Homo sapiens: one gene and its partners. The protein of the gene in region 5 purifies or fractionates together with the protein of the main gene of each other region. This does not show direct contact. Each region holds a gene or a part of one and is shown on either strand. Other genes may lie near its edges.

What was found.
Region 1: the proteins of CD1A (region 5) and ENTPD6 purify together in Homo sapiens (affinity purification with mass spectrometry; one large-scale study listed by BioGRID and IntAct). This does not show direct contact.
Region 2: the proteins of CD1A (region 5) and DSC2 purify together in Homo sapiens (affinity purification with mass spectrometry; one large-scale study listed by BioGRID and IntAct). This does not show direct contact.
Region 3: the proteins of CD1A (region 5) and GATB purify together in Homo sapiens (affinity purification with mass spectrometry; one large-scale study listed by BioGRID and IntAct). This does not show direct contact.
Region 4: the proteins of CD1A (region 5) and CLSTN3 purify together in Homo sapiens (affinity purification with mass spectrometry; one large-scale study listed by BioGRID and IntAct). This does not show direct contact.
Region 6: the proteins of CD1A (region 5) and ARV1 purify together in Homo sapiens (affinity purification with mass spectrometry; one large-scale study listed by BioGRID and IntAct). This does not show direct contact.
Region 7: the proteins of CD1A (region 5) and SEL1L3 purify together in Homo sapiens (affinity purification with mass spectrometry; one large-scale study listed by BioGRID and IntAct). This does not show direct contact.

What each region holds. Positions count from the first base shown.
Region 1 is NC_000020.11:25,198,712-25,202,211, reverse strand, and holds part of ENTPD6 (ectonucleoside triphosphate diphosphohydrolase 6), read right to left. Parts: intron 1-3,500. UniProt on the Homo sapiens protein: Catalyzes the hydrolysis of nucleoside triphosphates and diphosphates in a calcium- or magnesium-dependent manner.
Region 2 is NC_000018.10:31,081,922-31,085,421, forward strand, and holds part of DSC2 (desmocollin-2 isoform Dsc2a preproprotein), read right to left. Parts: intron 1,140-3,500; coding exon 1,005-1,139; intron 503-1,004; coding exon 317-502; intron 1-316. UniProt on the Homo sapiens protein: A component of desmosome cell-cell junctions which are required for positive regulation of cellular adhesion.
Region 3 is NC_000004.12:151,705,508-151,709,007, forward strand, and holds part of GATB (glutamyl-tRNA(Gln) amidotransferase subunit B, mitochondrial isoform 1 precursor), read right to left. Parts: intron 2,595-3,500; coding exon 2,481-2,594; intron 1-2,480. UniProt on the Homo sapiens protein: Allows the formation of correctly charged Gln-tRNA(Gln) through the transamidation of misacylated Glu-tRNA(Gln) in the mitochondria. The reaction takes place in the presence of glutamine and ATP through an activated gamma-phospho-Glu-tRNA(Gln).
Region 4 is NC_000012.12:7,147,371-7,150,870, reverse strand, and holds part of CLSTN3 (calsyntenin-3 precursor), read right to left. Parts: intron 1,900-3,500; coding exon 1,673-1,899; intron 1,349-1,672; coding exon 1,178-1,348; intron 328-1,177; coding exon 182-327; intron 1-181. UniProt on the Homo sapiens protein: Postsynaptic adhesion molecule that binds to presynaptic neurexins to mediate both excitatory and inhibitory synapse formation.
Region 5 is NC_000001.11:158,253,095-158,257,223, forward strand, and holds the start of CD1A (T-cell surface glycoprotein CD1a isoform 1 precursor), read left to right. Parts: upstream 1-1,329; 5' UTR 1,330-1,575; coding exon 1,576-1,633; intron 1,634-1,989; coding exon 1,990-2,256; intron 2,257-2,909; coding exon 2,910-3,188; intron 3,189-3,691; coding exon 3,692-3,970; intron 3,971-4,129. UniProt on the Homo sapiens protein: Antigen-presenting protein that binds self and non-self lipid and glycolipid antigens and presents them to T-cell receptors on natural killer T-cells.
Region 6 is NC_000001.11:230,977,793-230,981,893, forward strand, and holds the start of ARV1 (protein ARV1), read left to right. Parts: upstream 1-1,301; 5' UTR 1,302-1,313; coding exon 1,314-1,487; intron 1,488-4,101. Other genes in the region: TTC13 (tetratricopeptide repeat protein 13 isoform a precursor), read right to left, coding at 768-1,038. UniProt on the Homo sapiens protein: Plays a role as a mediator in the endoplasmic reticulum (ER) cholesterol and bile acid homeostasis. Participates in sterol transport out of the ER and distribution into plasma membranes.
Region 7 is NC_000004.12:25,845,989-25,849,488, reverse strand, and holds part of SEL1L3 (protein sel-1 homolog 3), read left to right. Parts: intron 1-1,624; coding exon 1,625-2,195; intron 2,196-3,500.

The DNA of each region.
Region 1 (3,500 bases), on a different chromosome or scaffold from region 5:
CTCTTTCACCTCCTCCTTAGCTTACTCAACATGAAGACAATGAAGATGAAGACCTTTATGATAATCCACTTCCACTTAATAAATAGCAAATACATTTTCTCTTTCTTATGATTTCTTATTATAATAACATTTTCTGTTCATTAGCTTACCTTATAGTAATATAACATACAAACTATGTGTTAATCAACTATTTATGTTATCAGTAAGGCTTCTTCAACAGTAGGCTACTAGTTTGGGAGGCGGAGGCGAGAGGATATCTTGAGCCCAGGAGTTTGAGACCAGCCTGGGCAGCATAGGGAGACACTGTCTCTACAAAAAATAAAAAAATTAGCTGGACATGGTGGTGTGCGCCTGTAGTCCCAAGCTCCTTGGGGAGGCTGAGGTGGGAGGATCACTTGAGCCTTGGAGTTCAAGGCTGCAGTAAGCCATGATTACACCACTGCATTCTAGACTGAAGTTACACTTGGATTTTCAACTGCAGGTGAGGGGTTGGTATCCCTAACCCATGTTGTTCAAAGGTCAGCTGTATATTCTATCTACAAGAAGCTCACTTTTGATCTAAGAACACATATGGGCTGAAAGTAAAAGAATGGAAAAGAGTCAATTCAAAGAGTGACCAAAGGAGAGCAGGGGTTGCTGTACCAATATCAGACAAAAGAGACTTTAAGTCAAAAACTGTCACAAGAGACAAAGAAGTACATTATATCATGATAAAATAGTCAATTCACCAGGAATATAAAACAATTATAAACATATACACAGTAAACATCAAAACCCCTAAATATATGAACCAGACACTGATAAAATTGAAGAGAAATAGACAACTATCAATAATAGTAATATTATTATACTAGGAGACTGAAATGTCCCACTTTGAATAATGGACAGAAAAATTAGACAGAAGATCAATATAGAAACAGAGGACTCAAACGACACTACAGAGCAAGAGTGTAACGGAGCGCCCTGCATGCAACGCCAGACGGTGGGCTACAAAACAGGCCTTAATGCATTTTAAACAATCCAAACCATACAAAGCATCTTTTCCAGTCACAATGGGGTGACACCAGAAATCAACAGCAGAAGGAAAACTGGATAATTCACAATTATGTGGAAATTCAGCACAGCCCAATCTTAAACAACTGAAGAGTCAAAGAAGAAGTCATAATGAAAATTAGAAAATACCTTGAGATAAGTGAAAACAAAAACACAACCTTCCAAAACTTATGGGATGCAGCAAAAACAGTGCCAATAGGGAAATGTACAGCTGTAAACACTTGCTTTAGAAAAGAAGAAAGGGCTCAAACAACCTAACTGTACACCTTAAGTAACTAGTAAAAGAACAAACTAAACATAAAGCTAGAAAAAGGAGGAGGAAAAAAGGAGGAGGAAAAAAGTAAAAAAGGAGGAGGAAAATAATAAAGATTACAGGAGGATAGAGAATAGAAAAATAGAGAAAATAAATGAAACTAAAATTTGATTCTTCAAAAATCAACAAAACTGTCAAACCTTTAGCTAGACTGACTAAGGAATAAAGAAAGAAGACTCAAATAGCTGTAATCTGGAATGAAAGAGGGGACATTACTACCTATTTTACAGAATAAAAATGATTATAAGAGAGTACTACGAACAACTGTATGCCTACAAACTGGATAACCTAGATGAAATGGACAAATTCTTGAACACAAAATCCACCAAGATAAATAATAAAGAATTTGGCAATGATTTCTTAGATACGACACCAAAAGCACAGGCAATAAAAGCAAAAATAAACAAATGGAATTACATTAACTAAATGGCTTCTACCCAGCAAAAGAAACAATCAACAAAATGAAAACACAACCTACAGAACAGGAGAAAACAGGTAAATAGTACATCTGCTCTGAAAGGGGTTAATAATTAGAATATATAAAGAACTCTTAAAAGTCAACCACAAAAATAGCAATCTGTTTAAAAAATAACAGATAAAAAGCATACAAAAAGAGGCTCAACATCATGAATCGTTAGCAAAATGCAAAATTGCAATGAGCTATCACATCATATATTAGGACAGCCACTATCAAACAAACAGAAAATAACAAGTATTAGTGAGGATGTGGAGAAACTGGAACCCTTGTGCGCTGCTGGTGGGAAAGTCAGATGGTGCAGCTGCCTTGGAAAACAGCATGGAGCTTCCTCCGAAAATCAAAGCTGGAACTACCATATGGTTCAGCAATCCCACTTCTAAAAGAGTTGAAATCAGGATCTTAAAGAGATATCTACACACTCACATTCACTGAAGCATTATTCACAACAGACAGGAGAGAAATAATCCAAACATCCATCGACAGATGGATACACAAAATTCAATTTAGAGCTGAACTGAATTTTGAATGAAATATTATTCAGTTTTAAAAAGGAAGTAAATTCTGACATGTGCTACAACATGGATGAGCCTTAAAGGCATTTCACTAAGTGAAATAAGCCAGTCACAAAAAGACAAATATTGTAGGATTCCACTTACATGAGTTACAGAGCTGTCAAATCACACAGACAGAGAGTAGAAGGGCAGGTGCTGAGGGCAGTGGGTGAGGAGGACTTATTGGGTAAAGAGTTTCAGTCAGGGAACATGAAAAAGTTCTGGAGACGGATGGTGATGGTGGTTGTGAATGTACTTAATGCCACAGAACTGTACATTTAAAAAGGATTATGTTGCTAATTTTTGTGTTATGTGTATTTTATGGCAACTTCTAAAATCCTTCAATGGCTAGGCCAGGCAGGTAACAGAAATAAGTTCTGTGGGTATCGGACTTAAGGCACTCTGTGGGGTGAGGGATGGGGATAAAGAGGGCAGGGCCCACCCACTGTGTCAAATACAAAACGTTTTACAATTCTGATCACACTCACGCCCTACTCTCTCAACGAAGGAGACAGATCATGCCTGACTAAGGTTCTTCCTGCTGAAATGTGCTGGCGGAGCTCCTCCCTTGTGCTGCTGGCTGCTCTGCCATTTCCACAGCACATGACATGTGCAGTTCTTCTAGGCCCCTCTGGCTCTGGTTAGATGACGCCTACTCCAGGAGTAGGGACCAGCCCCCATCCCAGAACCTCCAGCACCCAACACAAAACCAGATCCCAGCAGCTGCTCAGCCAGCACCTGTTGAAGGGGGTCTGCTGATGGCTCAGCAGTGTACTGAGGGGGAAAACGGGCAGTAGGAGGAAGATGCAGGCATCATAGATGCCACAGGACTGGGTGATGGCCATGAACTGAAACAGGTCATCTGGGAAGGGGCCATTTGGCAGGAGGCAGCAGTGATCAGGTTTTTGACATGCTGAGTTTGATATGCCAGCGGGACATCAGTGGGAAACAGGACAGGCCCTATGAGAGGTGACAGGTTTGGGGCTGGTCCAGAAATAGGACGGACCCTATGAGAGGTGACAGGCTTGGGGCTGGGAATGATGCACATTAAGGCAACGTCAGCTGAGACTGGGAGAAGAGACGTGGCACTAGGAATGTCCGTTCC
Region 2 (3,500 bases), on a different chromosome or scaffold from region 5:
CACAGAAAAACTGGGCTAGGAAAAGTCTGGCACTGTCCCAGGGGCATCAAAGCTGTGCTAGTTTTTGAACCATTTAAAGATATTGGTTACAAAATAGATATTGTATTATATGGACTTTTTAAAAAAAAAAATACCTAAACAAAAGATTATCAAAAACTAATATATTCTTTCCATTGTATATGAAGAACAGAGCATTTGCATTTACTTATATACCTATTTTATTCTACATTTATCAGAATTCCTTTCTTTCCATTAAATTCTAGCATGCTATTCTATGATATTATAAACTACAAATAATGTTCTAATTTATTCTTACCTTAACTACACAAAGAACTCCTTCATTGGTTTTGGCATCTGTTACAATTTTAAAATTGCCATTTTCATTGCCCTTTAAAATGGTATAATTAGCTCTCCAGTTAGCAGTATTCACTAAGTCCTTATCCTCAACAGTAACTCGTAAGATTTCCACATCAACTGTATTTTCTTCCACTGATGTCACATACTAAAATAATAAAAGCAAACAAAAAATTTCGTTAGTAACTCTCACAAAAATTGAACACGATGTGAAGTAAATCCTACTCTTCTAATTTCCAAAGTACTATGTTTACATGATTTGAAACCCTAGCACTATACAACTTTTAATGTCACTGGGGCACTTCATTTGAAATCATGAGGGGTGGATGGGGATGTGCATTTTTTTCTTTTCCTTCACTGCAACCTCTGCCTTCCACGTTCAGGCGATTCTCCTGCCTCAGCTTCCCGAGTAGATGGGATTACAGGTGCCTGTCACCATGCCCGGCTAATTTTTGTATTTTCTGTAGAGACGGGATTTCACCATGTTGGCCAGGCTGTTCTCAAACTCCTGACCTCAGGTGATCCGCCCGCCTCGGCCTCCCAAAGTGCTGAGATTACAGGCGTGAGCCACTGCGCCAGGCCAGAGATGTGCATATTAAACAATTAAAACTGGTCTATACATTTTTCTTTAATTAATATCATACACTTACAGAAGTACGAGTAAATGTTGGCAAGTGGTCATTTACATCATCAATGTTAATGATACAAGTTGAAGTTGTCTGTAGACCAAAATACTGACCATCCATGTCTTGTACTTTTATTTTCAACTGGTACTTGTCAATTAACTGAAAACAAAAAAAGAATTTAATTATTGGGGGAAAGCACCAACATTATAATTGAAATCTTACTTTACACTCCATAATTTTTTTGCACTAAGAATTTAAGAAGTGCATTATTACATTTCACAGCATTCGTGTATTAGAAGAATTTTCTCTCACTAGTAATTTTTCTTTTCTTTTCTTTCTTTTTCTTTTCTGAGACGAAGTCTCGCTCTGTTGCCCAGGCTGGAGTGCAGTGGTGTGATCTTGGCTCACTGCAACCTCTGCCTCCCGGGTTCAAGCGAGGCAGGAGAATCACACTAGGAATTTTTAATCAATTTATGAAAATTGAATAGTTTCTCAAATTTATAGTGCTATTAACTTACAGAATATAGATTCAATTGGTTTTGTCTTTATTCAACAGAAAAAGAAGAGCTATTTGCCACAAGTGCATTTAAAATTGCCTGGTAATTAATCAAAACCTTTATCTCCTAGCCAAAGTACATTCTTATGTTCAAAAAAATAGACAGCAATGACTCTTAAAATAGTCTTTTAACAAAACAATAAAATGAAATTTCTTCCTGCAAAAAATATAGATTTTAAGGGTTTATGTTACATTTAAGAGATCATCTAAACTGACATGAAGATAAAGGTCTGGGGCTATGTAGGTTTTTTTCTTTCTGTGGAAAATAGAATCTGGCTCTTAAGGCTTTCAATTTATCAGATATTGTTGAAAACTCATCACTACCTTAAAAAATATTTTTAAACATCTGAAGCATTTAAATATTTTAAAGTGTTTCTCCTTATAACTTTCATTTATCATAAGTGATTGAGATATGGGAGAATTAAAAACAATACAGTAATAATGCTTTCCGGACTGAGCATTAGGAGACTTGGGTTCTATTTCCAACTCCAAAAATAAGAGACACAATCTTGGGCAATTGGAAAATTCACTTTGTCTAGGTTTCTTCTTCTATAAGATGGTGATGCTTACCTTTCCTACCTAATTTATCTCTTTTCATAAGACAAAATAGCATGTTAAAATCTATCCTCATCTTCTACCTAGAATGTTCACCCTTCTCTTACAAAGATTCTTCCCTTAATTCCATCATCTCTGAAACTTTCTTTTCCTTAGGCATTATCTAAAATAAAACTAAAGTTTCTCTTGATCTTCCTGCTTTTAACACACATAATTTTCCAGATTTACTCCTCCCTCATAACCAATCACATGTGTAGACTTGAAAAATAATGGCCTTATTTCAACTGAAAAATTTTAAAACATCATGCTACTGTACTTTCAAGAAGGAATACATATTTTGTTTGTAGTGAACTAAAATTTATTGGAAATAATTAACTGGCTAATGAAACAAGGAAATGAAGTTTGATACCCTAAGTATTAACTTATGCTATCTTCAGATGGAAGAGAAATTCTGATGTTTAAAGGGACTAAAAGGTTGTAGGCAACTGAAGAAAACCGGAATCCTGAGGTCAAAAAGTTACTAGAGAGCACCACTGGATAAACACCTTCACTGGACAAGTGTTTTCAACTGATTATTTCAGAAGAATCTATTCAAAGAAAAGCACTTCTGTGATTGTTTGATTTAGGAGCTGAACAAGCTGTTGAGTTTTTGCTTTTTTTTTTTTTCCATAGAATGCTATTTTCACATAGACATCTATGGCTATGCAGACTATAGTTTTATGAAAGTATTTTGTAAAACATAAAGTTAATCTGTCACTTCAGGGAAAACAACTATTTGTTGCCAATGATAAATTGGAGATTTCAAACAAAAATGAGAAGCTTGGAAAACCTTTATCAACCAATGTGATATCAATGGAAGTAAAGAGGTGATCTTTTTGATATTATTTAATGCAATGTGTCAATATTTGGAAGCTCTGCATTACTTGGTGAACCAATATTTTCCAAATGACCAATGCACAATATAGAATGATGTACTGGTAAAATGGTCACTCAAAGTGTAAGATAGAGCAATGGATTTTAACGTAATAAAGTACAAAAGGTCATTGTTGAGGATTCAGAGTCCACATTACCAAAAACATTTAGGAAACAAGCTACTCCTTATCAAGTATTCATGTAGTATCAAGGAATAATATCCACAGTGATCTGTAATTATCATCAAAATACTACTCTCTTTTCTAATTTTATATCATGTCAGATTGCCTTTATATATGCTTCAGCTAAAACTACATATTGTAACAGACTAAATGCAGAAGGAGATATGAGAATCCACCTGTCTTAAGCAAAATACTAAAAACATTTGGAAAAATGCATAACAATGTCATTCTTCCCACTAAATTGTACTGTTTTGGAAAATGTACTTATTTTGTAAGTACAAAAAGAAGAAAAAGTGTAACAATTTTTACTGTTAT
Region 3 (3,500 bases), on a different chromosome or scaffold from region 5:
GAGAGATTAAGCAACCCCATGCAGATGACATGACTTGGCAGAAGTGGGGCTGGGCCCAATATCTCGGTCTGAGATTGCTGCCTACCCAGGGCCCTTACCCTGGGAGTCTGGGATGGGCTTCAAAGGCTCTGGTATCCCCAAAATTATACACAAAGTGTGGGTTGTGTGCATATGTGCAGGTTTTGGAGAGAGGGTCCAGCATTTACATTATCTTTTCAGAGGGACCCACGACCCCAAATGATTAAGATCCAAGGACCCATGCCTCAGCATCAAATGAGGGAGGCTGTGGGAATCAAAACACAACCACAATTGCTAAGCTGTTGCTGCTTTTTTTTTCTTTTTTTGAGAGATGGGGGTCTCACTATGTTTTCCAGCCTAGTCTCAATCTCTTGGTCTCAAACAATCCTCCTGCCTTGGCCTCCCAAAGTGCTGGGATTACAGGCATGAGCCACTAAGCCCAGCCTGCTAAACTGCTTTATGAAAATATCTTGAGCCTCCACCTTAACTCTCCCTCCCACCATGTACTACCTTCCCTTGCCCAAACCTAAACCCTTTTATCTGAGTTGCTAAGAGGCAGCAACAGCAAAACGTGTCAGTTTTTGCTCCCCATCTCTCCCCAACTCCAGTGATCTCTTTGGTTGACACGAGATGATGGCTAAATGGCCTGACATAGGGAGAAAAAGGTGGTGAAAAATCACAGGCTTGGAGAATTGAACCCATAGTAAAGCTTTGGCTCTTCCACTCTGAGTCAGACCACAGGGAGATTTCTCCCTCAGACTGGTCCTCCAAAGAGTTCTTCATAGGACAGGAGAAGGTTAGGGGTCTCCTTCAGAACTCATGGATGACTCTACCTAAAATTGGGCTGCTTTTTTAAGGTTACCATCACCACCTCTTAAAATAACGGGTCCCAGCCCACTACCTACAGGGGGAGGTGGAACTTCCTCCATTTGTTCCAGGCTTCCTCCTCACCAACTTGGCTTATAAGGGTTTTCCCTGACTCAAACCTTTCATGGCTTTGGGAACATGGGCTATGTCCCTTTCCGGATGCAGAACAGTTCACCATCTTTAGTCTGCCTTCATATAGGAGCCTATCCCTTCCCTCTCTGCTCCCATAAGCTATCCGTTTGACCACTTTAATGCCTTTTTCCTGAAGACTGTCTTCATTGAGTGGTTGATTCACTTCAGGTTCAGGACAATAAGGTCTAATACAAGACTAGAATCATCTTTTCTGTACTGTTTCTAATACTTTTCTTGACAAGACCAGGGCTCTATTAAACATTTTGGCTACAGCAAAACTTTGGCAACAGATTCAGTTGTCTTGGTCTCTGTGCACCCTTGAAGGGGTGCACTTCAAACTCCATCCCTCCCTCTTCCTCTCTAGATAGCTTCGGTTTTAAAAAATCTTTTTAGTCCTCTGAGGTCCTCCCCTTGAATTCACAGTTACCTATATCTACGGGACTGCTCAGATATTTATCTTGCTAAACTATTTTAGTTATTATACATTTATCATCAAAGAAATACCCACAGTGTGTGCTCCAGAAAGACTACTACTTCACTGCATGGGCACATAATCTAGCAGTTAAAAAGAATATAAAAAGCAGGAAAACATAATGACCATTTAGGTCAAGCCATGGTCAATCTAAAATGAACAACCATGACCTAGTAAATCTCAAGCTGGTCAGAAAGAAGGTGGTAAATGGTAAAACACAGCCATGATCTTTTGTGGATCCTCTGATAAAGAGGTGGAGTCTAATTTCCCCTCAAGTCTGCTTTGAATTCAATGTAATTTTCTTTTTTTTTCTTAGAGACAGAGTCTTGCTCTGTCGCCCAGGCTAGAGTGCAGTGGCGTGATCACAGCTCACTACAACCTCAAACTCCTGGACTCAAGTGATCCTCCCACCTCAGCCTCTTGAGTAGCTGGGACTACAGGTGCTCACCACCATGCCTGGCTAAATTTTTAATTTTTTATAGAGATGGGGTCTTGCTATGTTGCCCAGGTGGTCTTGAACTCGTGGCCTCAAGCAATCCACCCACCTTGGCTTCCCAAAGTGCTGGGATTATAGGCATGAGGCACTGTGCCTGGCCTCAATCTACTTTGAATAGAACACATTGGAAGTGACACTGTGTGAGGTCTACAGCTTAGGACTCACTTCTGCCTTCATCCTCCCGAAATGCTCCCACTGCCTCATAAGAAAGCCAAGGCTAGGCAAGTGCATGAAGAAAGATCACATGGATGGAGAAGCCCAGCAGACATCAGCATCAAGGCCCCAAGGTATGAGAGCGACTACCATGGACCCTCTGCTTCAGCTGGCCTGCCGGTTTCCCACAGCCACATGAGTGAGCCGACACAGGACCAACAGAACGGACCAGTGAAAACGAAAGTAGTTCTTGTGTAAGCCACTAAGTTTCTGGGTTGTTTGTTACCCAGCAAGAGAGAAACAATAGGAAGAAGGACACTAGGAGCGGCAGCTGGCATTCACCTATGGCTTTGGCCAGGAACCTGATGCTGTTGAGATTCTTCACTTCCGTTCGAACGCCCAAAGGCTCCCCAGGGTGATGCACGGATATATTGGCATCCACTCTCAACTGGCCCTCTGGAAGGAGAGAAGAAAACAACTCCTTAGAAATTCTTTGAGGTGACATAGTCTTTTAAAGGCAGGGAGTGTCAAAGGAAGCAGCATCTAACTCTACCTGCTGTTTAGTTATAGCAGCCTAACTTCAGAGAAGGCACGGTTGGTTCTGAAGTAGGTCGTGGCTGGTACTTCTGGCCACTCGAGAGGGGTTACAGTCCTGAGGCATCTACAGTGTGTGCCTGTACATGTGAACATATACAGATGTGTGTGCTTATGCACATATGGAAGAGAAGTTTTAGATTCGCCAGCTGGAGAGATCTAATTTTTTTGTGCTAAACAAGAAAAACAAAACTATTAAAATGGAGATTGACTCTGCAGTTTTATACTGAAGTTTTTTTTCAAAGTGTCAGAGCTGAGTTGGAGGAAAGGCCTCATATATCTGATAACCCTACACTGCTCTCCATTGGAATGTGGATTTCTAACAGTGATTCCAGGAGATTTAGAGGAGAGTCCTTGAGAATTTGCAGCTCAAGGGCAAGAACTGAAATCTGGGCTTTCCCCCCTCCTCCTTCCTCCAGGTACTGTAATAATCTCTTCCTTCCACAAACATGACTCCGAATCCTTCCTGACTGCTCTAACGATTTGCTACAGCAGACAGACAGCACTGTTACGAAGTCAGGAGTCTGTGGTGGGACTCAGAGAGGTGCTGACCCCATGCTGGGAGGACCTTCTTTGACCCTGGAGGCCCCTCAGATTAGGAGCAACAAGCCCTAAAGAAGCAGGCAATGTGTGGGGAGGACTAAAAGGCTCTTGAGGAAGAGAGAGAGAGAAAAATCCCAAGACAAATAGATGTAGGTAAGAAAGAATCACATTTGGCACCCTACAAAGTAAAGCTCTCAGATTCTCTGTTCCTCGTTTCATTTACAA
Region 4 (3,500 bases), on a different chromosome or scaffold from region 5:
TCTAGACCCCAGCCCCATCTCCTAACTACTGCCCCCATCTCCTTCTCCTCCACCCACTGCAAGGTCCAGCAGCCCTCCACGCTGCCATGTCCATGCCCACCAACTAACATTTTGAGTCCATGCCACCTCAGCTCCTTTCTGGGGGTGGGTAACTGTGGAAGGAAGGAGACTCTCTGGGTACCTCCACGATGAATTCATTGCTGGAGTAACGGCCATTCATTTCCGAGCAGGAAAGCCGGAACTTCCTGGTGTAGAGGGCAGCTCCGTGTCGCAGCCGATAACGAGCCTGCCTCAGGATCTCTTCATACACAGTGATGCTCTCCACCCCTGGAGATGAGGAAGCACCTCAGGGCAGGGGCCAGTGGAGGCAGGACCTGGGCAGGACCCTCTCTCCTGGACTCCCACCAGCTGACGCCACACAAGCTGTAGAGCAGGTCAGCCCCATCTCCGCAGAAGTGCGACCTGAGGTCGAAGGGAGGGATGCTCCCCTCCATCCCTGCCCACTCTGACTAACTAGGATGGAGAGATCAAGGCTCCATTTCCTGCTCTGTAGGTTCTGAGGAGGAATGGAAAGAAGGAGATAAAGACATCCTGAAAGACAGAAAGGGAGATGGCAAGCAGGAGGGAATATGAGAAAGAGGAAAATACAGAAGTCCTCAGTGAGCCCTGGAAAGGAGTGGAAATAGAAGGGAACTGATTATCTCCATCTTCTCCATTCTCCCTCCTGGCTTCCTTTGGAAACTACCAAATCATCACTCCCACTATTCACTAAGAGATGAGTACTTCTTGTAAAGCTCTGGTGTGCACGTGAGATGAGTGAGCTGAACAACAGAGATGACCGGTAACAAACAGACAGCTAGAGGGTTAGAAAGCTGGGCAGAGATGAGCCGAAGGAGGAGAGGAAGGTGAGAAGCCTGAATGGAAACAGGAGTGGGACCAGAAGTGGAGGTGAGCCAGGCTATGGAGAGGAGCAGGAAGACAGAAGCATTCGGAGCCTAAACCCAGCACACCTTCCCTAGGGACAATCAAAGCCAGAGGATCTTCCAGGCTAGGAAAATGCAAAACGGCACTTGTCCACATCCCTGGACCTGGAAGGAGGACCCTCTGGGCTTCCTAGGCCCTTACTTTTTGGGAGGGGCACACACACACAGAGGACAGGCCCTCAGGCCCCACTGACCAGCAATAGTGAGGTAGGCAGATGTGTTGGTGAGCTCCAGCCCCCGCTGCTGCAGAGAGGTTGTGTCCAGGAGCAGGCTTTCCCGCTCGGGATCCAGGTCATCCCCCACCAGAGAAATTTCACAGCCATCCAGGTTGTGCACAATCTCATCCGACATGCGTGTGTCTGTCACTGGGTTGGGGATAGTAGGGTCTGGGTCAGAGCCAAAGGGCCCACGGAGGTTCTGAGACCCAACCATGCCCTCATCACCACTCTCCCTCCCTTTCCAGGGCCAGGGAGAGGGAAGTCAGCATCATTTTCAAGAATATCATTATGCAACAATTCATTTCCACCCACGTGTTTTCCACTTGCTCTCCTTCTTAAAGGTAAGTTGTTCAGTCAAACAAACACAGGATGGAGTCGCTTTCTGCTTCCAGCCCCAGGAGTTCTCCCACACTCTGACTCCAGACACTGGCTGGTTCTCTGGATGGTGTTACTCCCCGAAGTCGTCCTTACCTGTGCCCTGCCAACTCTCATCCTTTTTGGCCTCCACCTGGTGAGAAATGGAGCAGGTGATTTGAAGATCAGGGAACAAAGGGACGCCGTTGGTTCCCTCAAAGTCCACAGCTGGGCGGGCAAAATGAGCAGTGCCACTCAGCAGGATCTGGGGGGCGTCAGGCTGAAGGACGACCACGTAGCCCTCCACTTCAGGGATGGAGACGCAGGACTCTTCGCTGAAGCACCTATGTAAGAAAGCAGGAGAAGCAGCATGTGACCCCAACACTTCCTCCCCGAAAACCCACATTCTGTTTCACTCCCCGCCCCAGCTACCTCTATCATAGAGCATCTCATGTCAGGAAGGGGCAGGGGAAGAAAGGGGGTCATGCCTCTGCATCCCAACCCCCACAGCAGTTGAAGGGGGACATATCCTTTCCTGGTAGGATGTCACCAAGGAAAATGTCGAGGACAGAAGGTCAGGTAATCCCAACCTGTGGGTGTGATCACACCATCAATGCCCTACCCCAGGATTATGGAGTACCTATAGATGCTATTTTAATGAAAAACAAAGCAAACTGAACTGACAAACAGGTATATATACACACACAGTTCTTTATCCAGCAGTTTAAAAGTACATGGACTCAGTATACTATCCGGCACATATGCGCCCAAAATTATTCAACAATAAAAGTAGAATGTGGACATCTATCAAAGGATGTCCTCCTCTTTGGTGTGTCTTTCATTCCCTTCAATATCGGGGAAACACACTTTGGTAGGTGAGATCATCTGACCACCTTGGACCTAGATCCACCGTCTCATGAAGCTTGAGGATCCAGGCATCAGGACAAGCTATCCTTAGAGGACTCTGTTGAGCCAGACCAACCAACAGCACAGCTGCTCAGCAGTGATGCTCCCAGGATCACATTTAGCCCCACCTTTACCAGTAATAACAACACCTCACAATCAATAGCCCTTGCCAGTTTATGAAGCATTTTCCCACATTTCTTTCTTTCTTTCTTTCTTTCTTTCTTTCTTTCTTTCTTTCTTTCTTTCTTTCTTTTTGATGGAGTTTCACTCTTGTTGCCCAGGCTAGGGTGCAATGGTGCGATCTTGGCTCACTGCAACCTCTGCCTCCTGGGTTCAAGCGATTCCTCTGTCTCAGCCTCCCAAGTAGCTGGGATTATAGGGCGCATGCCACCACACCCGGCTAATTTTTGTATTTTTAGTAGAGATGAGATTTCTTCATATTGGCCAGGCTGGTCTTGAACTCCTGACTTCAGGTGATCTGTCCGTCTCGGCCTCCCAAAGTGCTGGGATTACAGGCGTGAGCCACCGCACCTGGCCCATATTATTTCATTATATTATAACCTCATTTCTATGCTGTAAAATGCCTAAAGCTCAGGCTGGGCATGATGGCTCATGCCTGTAAATCCTGGCACTTTGGGAGGCTGAGGCGGGAGGATCCCTTGAGCTTAGGAGTTCGAGATCAGCCTGGGCAACATAGTGAAACCCCGTCTCTACAAAAAATACAAAAATTATCCAGGTGTGGTGGTAGATGCTTGTAGTCCCAGCTACTCAGGAGGCTGAGGTGGAAGGAACACTTGAGCCCAGGAGGCAGAGGTTGCAGTGAGCTGATGAGATCAGGCCACTGCACTCCAGCCTGGGCGACAGAGTGAGACCCTATCTCAAAAAAAAAAAGAAGAAAAGAAAAGAAAGAAAAAGAAAAAGAAACAATCAAGGCTTAAACCAGAGTCTAGGCTTAAATCATTCTTCTCCTTCCAGGTCCACTGATTTTTTTTTTTTTTTTTTTTTTTTTTTTTGGCAGAGTCTCTCTCTGTTGCCCAGG
Region 5 (4,129 bases):
TCAAGAAAAAAAATTTTTTCCCCCTAAATTAGCTTCAGATACTTTTTTTTTGAAAACCAAAAAATAGTAAATAGCCCAGACACATTTATATGGATGATATCTACAAAGCACAAACATATATTTAGAAGCCCTTCAACAGTTACAAGCAGCGTAAAAGAGGAATGTAAATGTGTCCGGCAAAGACTCATTTATAACAAAACAACCCTGAAACATCCAAATAGGACTAATAAAAAGGGATCCTGGGATAAAGACTTTGGAATACTCCATTAACTTCACTGCTCACAAGTTCTGACTAGTTTCTTATAAGTAATAGGACATTTATAGCAGGATCTTTTATGTAAATCTCATGCCAGTAACTTGTACTTTTATCCTAAATAAAACTGTATGAGATTCTCATCTCACTACATAGGGTTACAAGTAACTTTTATGATATCTTTAAAAAGTTTCATGTTGAATATCACCTCCATAATTAAAAAATGGATGCATAGACTGAATTCATTCATTCATTTGACAAATATTCACTAAGCACCTACCACTTGTGAGATACTCTGTTAGGTGGGGATACAGTATGATAACTGTATGGAACTAACACTCCAAGTCAAACATTGAAGTCAAAATTCTGGGCTGGCGTACATTAGTTAGGAGCCCCCATTTTAGAAAATATTATTTCAAGCAGGCCTTGTTTTTATCCAGAGAGTGTATACAGTATAATAAAACTCAGTACACCAAGATTTATATTTCATGGCGTGTTTTTCTCCCTAAGTAGAGAAAAAGCTCCTTCAGTAAAGTGATTGTGTTGTCAACCACTGCATATTCTTAAGTGTACCAAGATGCTTGACTCCAGGCAGGTGCTAAGAGAGACTGTTGGGTGAGTGAATGTATATCAATGAAAATCAAACAGAGGAAATTTTCTTTATATGTTTTAGTGTTCCTGTGGTTTTTTTTTTTTTTTTTTTTTTTTTTTTTTTTTTTTTTTTTGTGATGGTTACTGGCTCTTCTCTAAGAATAATGGAGAAAAGGTGTTAGTTTGTACTGTCGCACAGGGCAGTCGTAGGAGACTCTGAAAAAGCAAATAAATCAATGTTAAATCAGAAATGTGAATGTAGTAAGGGGCTGAAGAGACAGGGGAAGAGAATACATGGGAAAATATTGAAAAGGACAGAGTGATCAAAAAGAGCAGGGACATGGGAGCATTGGGCAGCACACTGGGAGCCATTTCACTTTATGCTCTTATTGTATGATTGAGAAAAAAATGTCCTTAGTGGTTAAGTGGCTTTTCAATGCCACATCAGACTTGTTCCATAGCAGTTGAATTAGGGGAAGGTGAATAAGTTGGAGGTTGGTGACAAGGAGAGAAGCTGGAACAGAGAGGAGAGTCAGAACCAGAGGGAAATGAGAGACTGAGTAGGCATCTCAGGGTTTTTGAAGGAGTGGATTTTCTTTGTTGCAGTCAGGGGAGGTTTGTCTGTTGGCTGCAGAAAGAAGTCAGAATAGAGATATCGTGGGGTAGGTTTGTTTGGAACAGAAATCAAAGACCAATTTTTCTGAGAGAAGGAAATAACATCTGCAAATGATATGCTGTTTTTGCTACTTCCATTGTTAGCTGTTCTCCCAGGTGATGGCAATGCAGACGGTAAGAACTCTGACAACTGCCCAGTTGGGTGGTGGGTGAAGGTCTCTCTCTCTCTCTCTGTGTGTGTGTGTGTGTGTGTGTGTGTGTGTGTGTGTGTGTGTGTGTGGTTTCCCTAGCATATACCTGGAAAGTGAGAGTGCCAGGCTGGTTCCATTCTGACTATCCATGACTCCAGGTCCCTGAGCTCTTATGAAGGTGGTTGATAAGGCATGGGACTGTGTGGCAAGTGAATGTCTGCTAAGATCATGATGGATCCCCTTTTCTCCAGATTCTGAGTTCCCGCACTCTGGCACCTTTCTCTCTCCATCCTCTTTCTCAATGTCTTTCTCCCCATTCTATCTGTTCTTTTGTCGCAGGGCTCAAGGAGCCTCTCTCCTTCCATGTCACCTGGATCGCATCCTTTTACAACCATTCCTGGAAACAAAATCTGGTCTCAGGTTGGCTGAGTGATTTGCAGACTCATACCTGGGACAGCAATTCCAGCACCATCGTTTTCCTGTGCCCCTGGTCCAGGGGAAACTTCAGCAATGAGGAGTGGAAGGAACTGGAAACATTATTCCGTATACGCACCATTCGGTCATTTGAGGGAATTCGTAGATACGCCCATGAATTGCAGTTTGAATGTGAGTTCAGTTTTCTCCATGGAGAGTGGTGAGGTGGGAGAGAGGGGTTGTCTCAATGTTTCTTATTCCTTTAGGAAACAGCCTGACTCTCTTCTGTATCTTATTCTATTCTTTCCACCATAAAACTGCAATTGCATACTTTTGGGCAAGGGCTATCATCCAGACCTTAATTCTCCAAACACTTCTGCTACTTATGAACTCCTCTCTCATTGATTGCAGGGTTGTGCATTATTATCTTTTCTTACAGGTATCCCAGGACCACCCTTCTGCCTGCCCTACAACCAGATACCTTCAGCTTTCTCACTTTCTCATTCATTCTCTTCAGCAGTCTCTCTATATATACTCAATTGTAACCCATTGCATTTAATTCAACCTAAGTTGTTATAATCCCAGTTCTCTTACACCAGGTCCTTGCTCACCCACAGCATTCACATCACCTTCTTTGACCAGTTTGCCCTCTTCCTCATGTTATTAATCTTTTCCTCCACCTACAGCTCCCACCAATTCCTCTTTCTCTGAATCCCTGACCAAACCAAATTTTATTCCATTATGTCAAACCCTGCACACTTCCCCCTTCTGCTTCTATAATCTTTGCTTCTACTCATTTCATTTTATATTTTTTTCTCCCTCTTTCCTCTATTTCATAACCCCAGATCCTTTTGAGATACAGGTGACAGGAGGCTGTGAGCTGCACTCTGGAAAGGTCTCAGGAAGCTTCTTGCAGTTAGCTTATCAAGGATCAGACTTTGTGAGCTTCCAGAACAATTCATGGTTGCCATATCCAGTGGCTGGGAATATGGCCAAGCATTTCTGCAAAGTGCTCAATCAGAATCAGCATGAAAATGACATAACACACAATCTTCTCAGTGACACCTGCCCACGTTTCATCTTGGGTCTTCTTGATGCAGGAAAGGCACATCTCCAGCGGCAAGGTCAGTCCTGCACTCTCCCTCCAAGAAGTTTTGATTTGAAAATCATACCCTTCCACCACCTCCTTCCAATTTAGAATAAGGAAGAGCCACCCAGAAGTGGGAAAGGCTGGGTGCAGTGCCTCACATCTGTAATCCCAGTACTTTGGGAAGCTGAGGCTGGAGGACTTCTTAAGGGCAGGAGTCCCAGACCAGCCTGAGCAACAGAGTGAGACCAGTGTCTCTAAAAAATAAAAATAAGTTAGCCAGTCATGGTGGTACACACCTGTAGTCCCAGTTACTTAAGAGGCTGAGGCAGGAGGATCGCTTGAGCCTAACAGTTTGAGGTTACAGTGAGCTATAATTTATAATTATGCCACTGCATTGCAGCATAGTGACAGAGTGAGACCCTGTCTCAAAAAAAAAAAAAAGAGAAATGGGAACAATGTGTCTATCTAAACTTCTAAACTGTTGTGGAGATATGAAACTCCAAGTCTGTATTTGAATATCTTTTCTGTCCTTTGCAGTGAAGCCCGAGGCCTGGCTGTCCCATGGCCCCAGTCCTGGCCCTGGCCATCTGCAGCTTGTGTGCCATGTCTCAGGATTCTACCCAAAGCCCGTGTGGGTGATGTGGATGCGGGGTGAGCAGGAGCAGCAGGGCACTCAGCGAGGGGACATCTTGCCCAGTGCTGATGGGACATGGTATCTCCGCGCAACCCTGGAGGTGGCCGCTGGGGAGGCAGCTGACCTGTCCTGTCGGGTGAAGCACAGCAGTCTAGAGGGCCAGGACATCGTCCTCTACTGGGGTGAGAAAAAGCTAAGGCCCAGGCTGGAAATGCCAGGAAGTGGACCTCAGGCATAGAGGGAGGGCAAGCTGAAAATTTTAGGATTTTAGGGATTATAGCCCAAACATGAATAAAAATAGATAATCTAAGAAATGGAAATGTTGAAAATGAGGGCCCTGT
Region 6 (4,101 bases), about 73 Mb from region 5:
TGTACACACGTATTTTGTCCCAGAGGCATCTGCTATGATTTATTAAACTGAAGCCAATAGCGCCCATTCTTAATGAATGAGCTGGCGTAGCTCCAATACACACACGGCACTGACACACAGGCTCAAGGCCTGCAGGGGCCTTTTTTCCCTCTGGGAGACACCTGACAGATCGCAGGTTGATCTTAAACAACTGGAAGCAAGATGTCAACGAGCAGATAAGATGGGCTTGCTCTTTTTTTCCATTCCAGGGATCCAATTTTTAGGAACTGTTGTATACGAGACATTAACCCGGGAGGTCAGGAAGCCTGATTTCCAGGCCTAAGATGTGCCAGGCGTCTCCCTCCGGGGGCGGGCTCCGCAAGCCGCCGGGCTGGTTGCTCGTCCGCCCGCCCCTCCCTCGCCCCTTCGGCATCCTCGGGAGGCCGGCGGCGGGAACAGGGCTGCCCCGGGCCACCTGCCATCTCCTCCGCCACCCTTCCAACAGTTGCTTCAGACTCAGGAGAGAGGCCGCCCTGGCCCCAGGAGCATGCTGTCAGCTCATTTCTCGACTCGCCGCCCTGCCCAAAGGCGGCTGCAGGAGGGCGCGCGGCGGCGTGGGTGGCAGCGGCGGGAAGCTGCCCGCCAGGACCCCTGGCCGAGCCGGCTCCCGCGGATCGCGCGCCGCAGCCGGAGGCGTGAGGCCCGGGCGACCCGTACCCCGGCCCGGGACCCCAGCCCCGCTGCCCCGCCGCCCCGGCCGACTCGGACGCCCGCCGCCGCCCACTCACCGCCGCACTCGGCAGAGTACTGGTCCCCCCAGTCCCCGGACTGCGGGCTGCAGCCGCCGCCGCCCGCCGGGGCCTCCTGCTGCTGCCGGTGCTGCAGCTCCTGCTTGAGCAGGGAGAGCGGCGAGTAGTGCTCGGTGGCCAGGGCGCCTGGCCGCAGCCCGGCGGACAGGACCCCCAGCAGCAGCAGCAGCAGGACACGCCGGGCGGCGCCCGCGGCGGCCACAGCGCCGCCCCAGAAGCAGCAGCAGCAGCAGCAGCCGGCAGGTGCCATCTTCCCTCAAGGCGCATGCGCGACAGCCCTTGCCCGGCTCTCAGGCCTCCCCGCCTCTAACCTACGGCGGGCAGGTGGACCGTGGCAAGGGGGCGGGACAAGGGGAGAAGCATTGTGTGCTGGGAATGGTAGTCCCAGCTCGGCCAGCCCGGGGCCGCCTTGCCGGTGCCGGGACTACGAATCCCAATAAGCCCGCGCGGCGCAAGTCTTCCGGTCTGGCGTCTGACGTCTTACCCTCCACAGAATCGGAAGTTCTGGACTGCAGTTGAGTGGAAATGGGCAACGGCGGGCGGAGCGGCCTGCAGCAGGGGAAGGGGAACGTGGATGGGGTGGCAGCGACTCCTACTGCTGCCTCGGCCTCCTGCCAGTACAGGTGCATCGAATGCAACCAGGAGGCCAAAGAGTTGTACCGAGACTATAACCACGGTGTGCTGAAGATAACCATCTGTGTGAGTTGTCAGGTGTGGGGTGCCCTTGAGAAGAAAATGGCGCGGCGGGATTTGGGGACCGCGAGGAGCAGGGTCCTCTGATACAGTCTTTAGTTCGGTAGTTGACATTCCCGCCCGGGATCTTTGCATGAATATCTGTACTGATAGAGAACTCAGCTACCCGACAGCGCTTTTCTCATACTGGGGCATATTTGGGTGATATGACCTAAGCCGGCGAACGGACCGGACCGACAGACAGAGGTAGATGTGGGCATTTTGCAGAGAAATTTAAAGATCAATTAGGTTGACATTTTGGTTCATGCCAAAGCTACTTCCTTCTAGCTCTTCTCCCTTTGACAGAGAGATGGTACCATCCTTACCCTCCACAACCCATGTTGAATTCACCTACGATGCTTTTTAAAGGTTTCATCAATTGTCGTTATTGGATGTCTACGGTGTACAAAGCACTATGCTAGACGTTGGTGGTACAAAACCCAAAAGTGAGGAAGTAAAAATTCTCATTTCAAGGTGTTCGTAGAATACCTTGAACTTTCTGATGATTTTCCATCTCAGAGTTAAGGCCCGAATCCCTGAACTGGCTTATAAGGCCCTATGGAGTCTCCTGCTACTCTTTCCCTTCTTTATTTTACGGCAGAGAGAATAATCTTATGTTTAAAGAGTCTACAAAGTTGGAGGTTCTTTGGGGGTATTAATTAGCAAAGAACCTGTCACAGAATAGACAGTACATTTTTGTCCCATTTCAGATCTTGTGATTTTCTAATCTCTTTAGTAAATTATGGTCTGTAGTAATATACAAGAGAATTGACAAACTGAGTGTATACCTGTATAATCTGCCAACCACATAACGTTCTGATGCATACAACCTCAATTTCCTGTTCCTCTCTCAAGTACTTTCCCTCTTTTGTCAAAATGTCAACCCTTGTTAAATCCAACATATTGCCTGGTCTTGTCCCTGTACCCATGCAGCAGTACGTTGCTGGGGAAAAACAAATTTGTGACGATTAACCTCATATAGGCCTTTCATGATTTCTGGCAATCTTATTTCGGTTTTTTTTTTCTTTCTTTCTTTCTTTTTGAGATAGAGTTTCCCTCTGTCACCCAGGCTGGAGTGCAGTGGGGCACTCTCAGCTCACTAAAACCTCTGCCTCCCAAGTTCAAGCAATTCTCCTGCCTCAGCCTCCCAAGTAGCTGGGATTACAGGCCTGCACCACCACGCCGGGCTAATTTTTGTATTTTTAGTAGAGACCAGGTTTCACCATGTTGACCAGGCTGGTCTTGAACTGACCTCAAATGATCCACCCACCTCGGCCTCCCAAAGTGCTGGGGTTACAGGCATGAGCCACTGCGAAAACAGAAGAGAACTTCCACCAGGTTTGCAACAACATAAACCCAATACTAGCATTTGTTATTTCTTTACTGTACTGTCTTCTTCTGCCTTCTGCTGGATCATTCCCACCAGCATGCATACTGTTACTTCTTCCATCAAAAAAAAAAAAAAAACCAACACCACCAACAAAATACACTTGCTGCCACTTCCCCCTTTAGCTTCTGCTCTTTTTCTTCTTAATTAGAAAGCAGACCTTCTAAGATATGTTTGTACTGTCTATTTCCTTTCCTAGTTTCTCTTGAACCTGCTTTAGTCACATTCCCACCCGCATTTCATTAGAAACTGTTCTTGTTAAGATCACCACTTCCACTTTGCTAAATCCAGTAGTCGATTCTCAGTTAATGATCAGCAGCATTTTACCTCATTACTTCCTCCTCCTTGAAATGCTGTGTGCGCTTCCCAGGATTCAGTGCTCTTCTTATTGTCTTCTTACTTCACTGGCTGTTACCCCTCAATCTCCTTTCTGCTTTTGCTTCACCTCCCTTACCTCTTAATCATGGTGTATTCCAACGCATAGTCATCGTGCCTCTTTCTGTCTGCATGCTTTCCCTTGAAGAGCTCATTCTGTCTCATGGCTTTAAATACCGTCAAAATTTTGACAATTTCCAAATTTATATTTCTACCCTGAACCTCTTCCCTGAACTCCAGACTTAAATGTCCAACTACCTACTTGACTTCTCCACTTGGATTTCAATAGACAGCTCAAATATACCCATCACAGTTAATGGCAACTTTACCATTTTAACTCCTAAGACCAAGAAACCTTGGTGTCATCCCTATTTCTACTCTTCCTCTCACATCCCATATTCAGGTATTCAGCAAATCCTGTTCTGTCTTCAAATTATGTTCAGAATCCACTACTTCTCACTACTCCTGCTGCTACAATCCTCATCCAAGCCACCATGATGTCTACCTGAACTATTGTTGTAACTCCTATCTGGTCTCCCTACATCATCCTTGTACCTCTTCAGTCTTCTCTCCACACAGTAGCCAGGGACTGATCCTTTAAAAATGTAATTTAGATCATATCATCTCTTTGACCAAAACTTTCTGATGATTTTCCATCTCAGAGTTAAGGCCTGAATCCCTGAACTGGCTTATAAGGCCCTATGGAGTCTCCTGCTACTCTTTCCCTTCTTTATTTTACCGGCAGTCCCGCTGGCATCCTGGTGTTTCTCAGACCAGGCAGGTTCCTTCCTCAAGGCCTTTGCACAATGCCTGGAGCAC
Region 7 (3,500 bases), on a different chromosome or scaffold from region 5:
TGTGAGTTTGACTACTCTAGGTGCTTCATGTAGGCGGATGATATAATGTCTGTTCTCTTGTGTCTAGCTTGTTTTCCTTAGCCTCATCTCCTCAAAGTTCATCCATTTTACAGCATACATCAGAATTTCATTCCCTTTTATGGGCTGAATAATATTCCATCCCATGTATATACCACATTTTTTCTACCCATTCATCCATGGATGGACCCTTGGGGTTGCTTTTGGCTAGCGTGAGTAATGCTGTTATGAACACGGGTGTACAAACATCTCTTCAAGTCCTTGCTTTAAATTTTTGGGGTGTATATCCAGAAGTGGAATTGCTGGGTCTGATCATACCATAATTCTTTTTTGAGATGGAGTCTCACTCTGTTGCCCAGGGTGGAGTGCAGTGGTGTGATCTTGGCTCACTGCAACCTCCACCTCCCGGGTTCAAGTGATTCTCCTGCCTCAGCCTCCCAAGGAGCTGGAATTACAGGTGTGCACCACCTTGCCCAACTGATTTTTGTATTATTAGTAAAGACAGGGTTTCACCATGTTGACCAGGCTGGTCTTGAACTCCTGACCTCAAGTGATCCACCCACCTGGGCCTCCCAAAGTTATGGGATTGAAGGCATGAGCCACCACGCCCAGTCTGATCATATGATAATTCTGTGTCTAATTTATTTGAGGAACTGCTATACTATTTTCCATAGTAGCCACACCATTTTACATTCTCATTAAGAGTGCATAAGGGTTCCAGTTTCTCCACATCTTCACCAACACTTGTTATTTTCTCTCTGTGTGTATGCGTTGTGTGTGTTTAATAATAGCCACCCTAATGGATATGCAGTGGTCCAAAGTGACCTTTTTCTATTGTGTTTTGGATACTTGAATCACAAAGTCATATTTAGGAGAGCTCTTAGCACTCACATATCAGCACCTCATGCTCAAAACCTTGCATTGATTTCATGACCAGATAAATAAACATTCAGCTAAAATCCTTCTTGGTGCATGTAGCATTGTCTGTGGTGAAAGAATCAGACAACACAGCCCATCGTCTGAGCTTACTTGTGTGTGACCAGGAGCAATAGAAGCCTCTTGCCTGTCCATATATCATGCAGGCTTGCCCTGGCTTCAAACTTATGGGAGAAAAAGGGGCCAGGTTGGCATCCCTGTTATGTTCCCTCGAGGGTGCACTTTTCACTTTTCTGCCACCCTTTGATTTGGTAGTGTCTGACCCACCATTTAAAGTCAGGACAATGGTTTGAAAATGTCTGAAGCTGCATTGTCTCTGTTTTATTCTAAGGCAGGTTCCCTTGCTACTGGATTTGTTGTGAACCAACTTCTGCCTTTGAAAACCAACTCTGGAATTATTGCCATGTAGATGTGACAGTCACATTCTGATCAGCAGATGTTACTGTGTCTGGGGAGAGAGTTTAATGTGGCCTCATCTTCCTTTGTATTTGTGTGTTGGTTTTTCCCCAATTCTTCAGTAGTGGTTTTGACATCTTTTATCTCCCGCATTCATTCATTGCTTTATGTAGATTGATATTTTTTTATCCCAGGAAAATAATGATTCAAGTATCTGTTATGATGAGGATTTTTAAACTTTCTGTATTTCTTACTTTCTTTTTCTTTTTTTCAGAATGTTGTACCATCTTTGGGTAGGCAGACTTCCCTGACGACATCAGTGATACCCAAAGCTGAGCAGAGCGTGGCTTACAAAGACTTTATTTATTTTACTGTCTTTGAAGGAAACGTTCGCAACGTTTCTGAAGTCTCGGTTGAGTATTTATGCTCTCAGCCTTGTGTTGTCAATTTGGAAGCAGTTGTTTCATCTGAGTTCAGAAGTAGCATTCCCGTGTACAAAAAAAGGTGGAAGAATGAGAAACATCTTCACACCAGCAGGACACAAATAGTACATGTGAAATTTCCAAGCATTATGGTTTACAGAGATGATTATTTCATCAGACATTCCATCTCTGTATCTGCAGTGATAGTACGCGCCTGGATTACTCACAAATACAGTGGCAGAGACTGGAATGTTAAATGGGAGGAAAACTTGCTCCATGCTGTAGCAAAGAATTATACCCTCCTGCAGACCATCCCGCCTTTTGAACGCCCTTTCAAAGATCATCAAGTGTGCCTTGAGTGGAACATGGGTTATATTTGGAACCTTCGGGCAAACAGGATTCCACAGTGTCCTCTGGAAAATGGTAGGTCATCTATCTTGCTAGGAACCTAATTCTCATTTTTTCAGATAGCCTGTATCATGATCGAATGGCAAGAGAAAATTCTTCTATTAGCGAAGGGGGATACAGGGAAGATGGAGGGACACAATGAGTCTGTAACTTTGGAGTTTGAAGACAAAAGGAGAAAAATTAAAAGGGGAAGAGAGGAGAAAGATTAGGAGAGAGCAGGACCAAAGATGAAAGAACAGAACAGAGGAGCTGAGGAAGGTGGACTTTGAGAGGGTTAGATCTGCTTTAAGCTGGAAAGGAGTATTCATGCCACCGAAACAAGGATTGGGAAAATCTTCCCACTCACCTTCCAACAAGCCTGCTAAAGTTTCCTCTTTTTTTTTTTTTTTTTTTTTTGAGATGGAGTCTTGTTCTGTTGCCCAGGCTGGAGTGCAGTGGCGAGATCTCACTCGGCTCACTGCAACCTCCGCCTCCCAGGTTCAAGCAATTCTCCTGCCTCAGCCTCCCGAGTAGCTGGGATTACAGGCACCCACCACCATGCCAGGCTAATTTTTGTATTTTTAGTAGAGATGGGGTTTCACCATGTTGGCCAGGCTGGTCTCAAACTCCTGACCTCAGGCGATCTGCCTGCCTTAGCCTCCCAAAATGCTGGGATTACAGGTGTGAGCCACCATGCCGGGGCCTCTATTATTTTTAAGCAGAGTGTTTTATCCTGGAGGAGATGAGAACCTAAAGGAACCCTTCCAACAGAAAGGGAGGTTGTACCACAGAATGGTAACCTCTGGCTGGGCCTGATTCCTGTCCTGCCACTTTCTATCTCTGTAACCTTGGAAGTCTCTGAGCCTCAGTTTTCCTATCTGTAAAATGGGGATAACAAGCAGTTCCTTCAGAGCAGTGCTGTGAGGACTAAATGAGATGTGATTGCTCAGCACATCATCAGCACTCAGTGAGAAGCTGTGATGATGATAGAGTCCACACTCTGCATTTTATCCTAAATGCCACATGGTCACAGCCTCAGCAGGACCAATCCCGGAGGCTCCAAGGCCCTTCTGCAGCCTCCCTTAAGCCGTGGGGCTGGAGATCTCAGGCATGTGCTGAGAGGCGGCACTCTGAAGTTCTCTCCATTGGTGCAAGGAGCGCCTTGCTCTGTGGATGCCGAGTGCCTGCCAGCTCTTCTTCTGCCCCCTCAGTGGGGAGCCCTCCCCACACATGCGCCCAGTTGTTTCCTCAACTGTGGCCCTAGGACCACCTGTGACAGAATCACAAATGCTTGTTGCAAATGCAAATTCCTAGGCCCAGTCCTTCATCTACTTAGTCAGG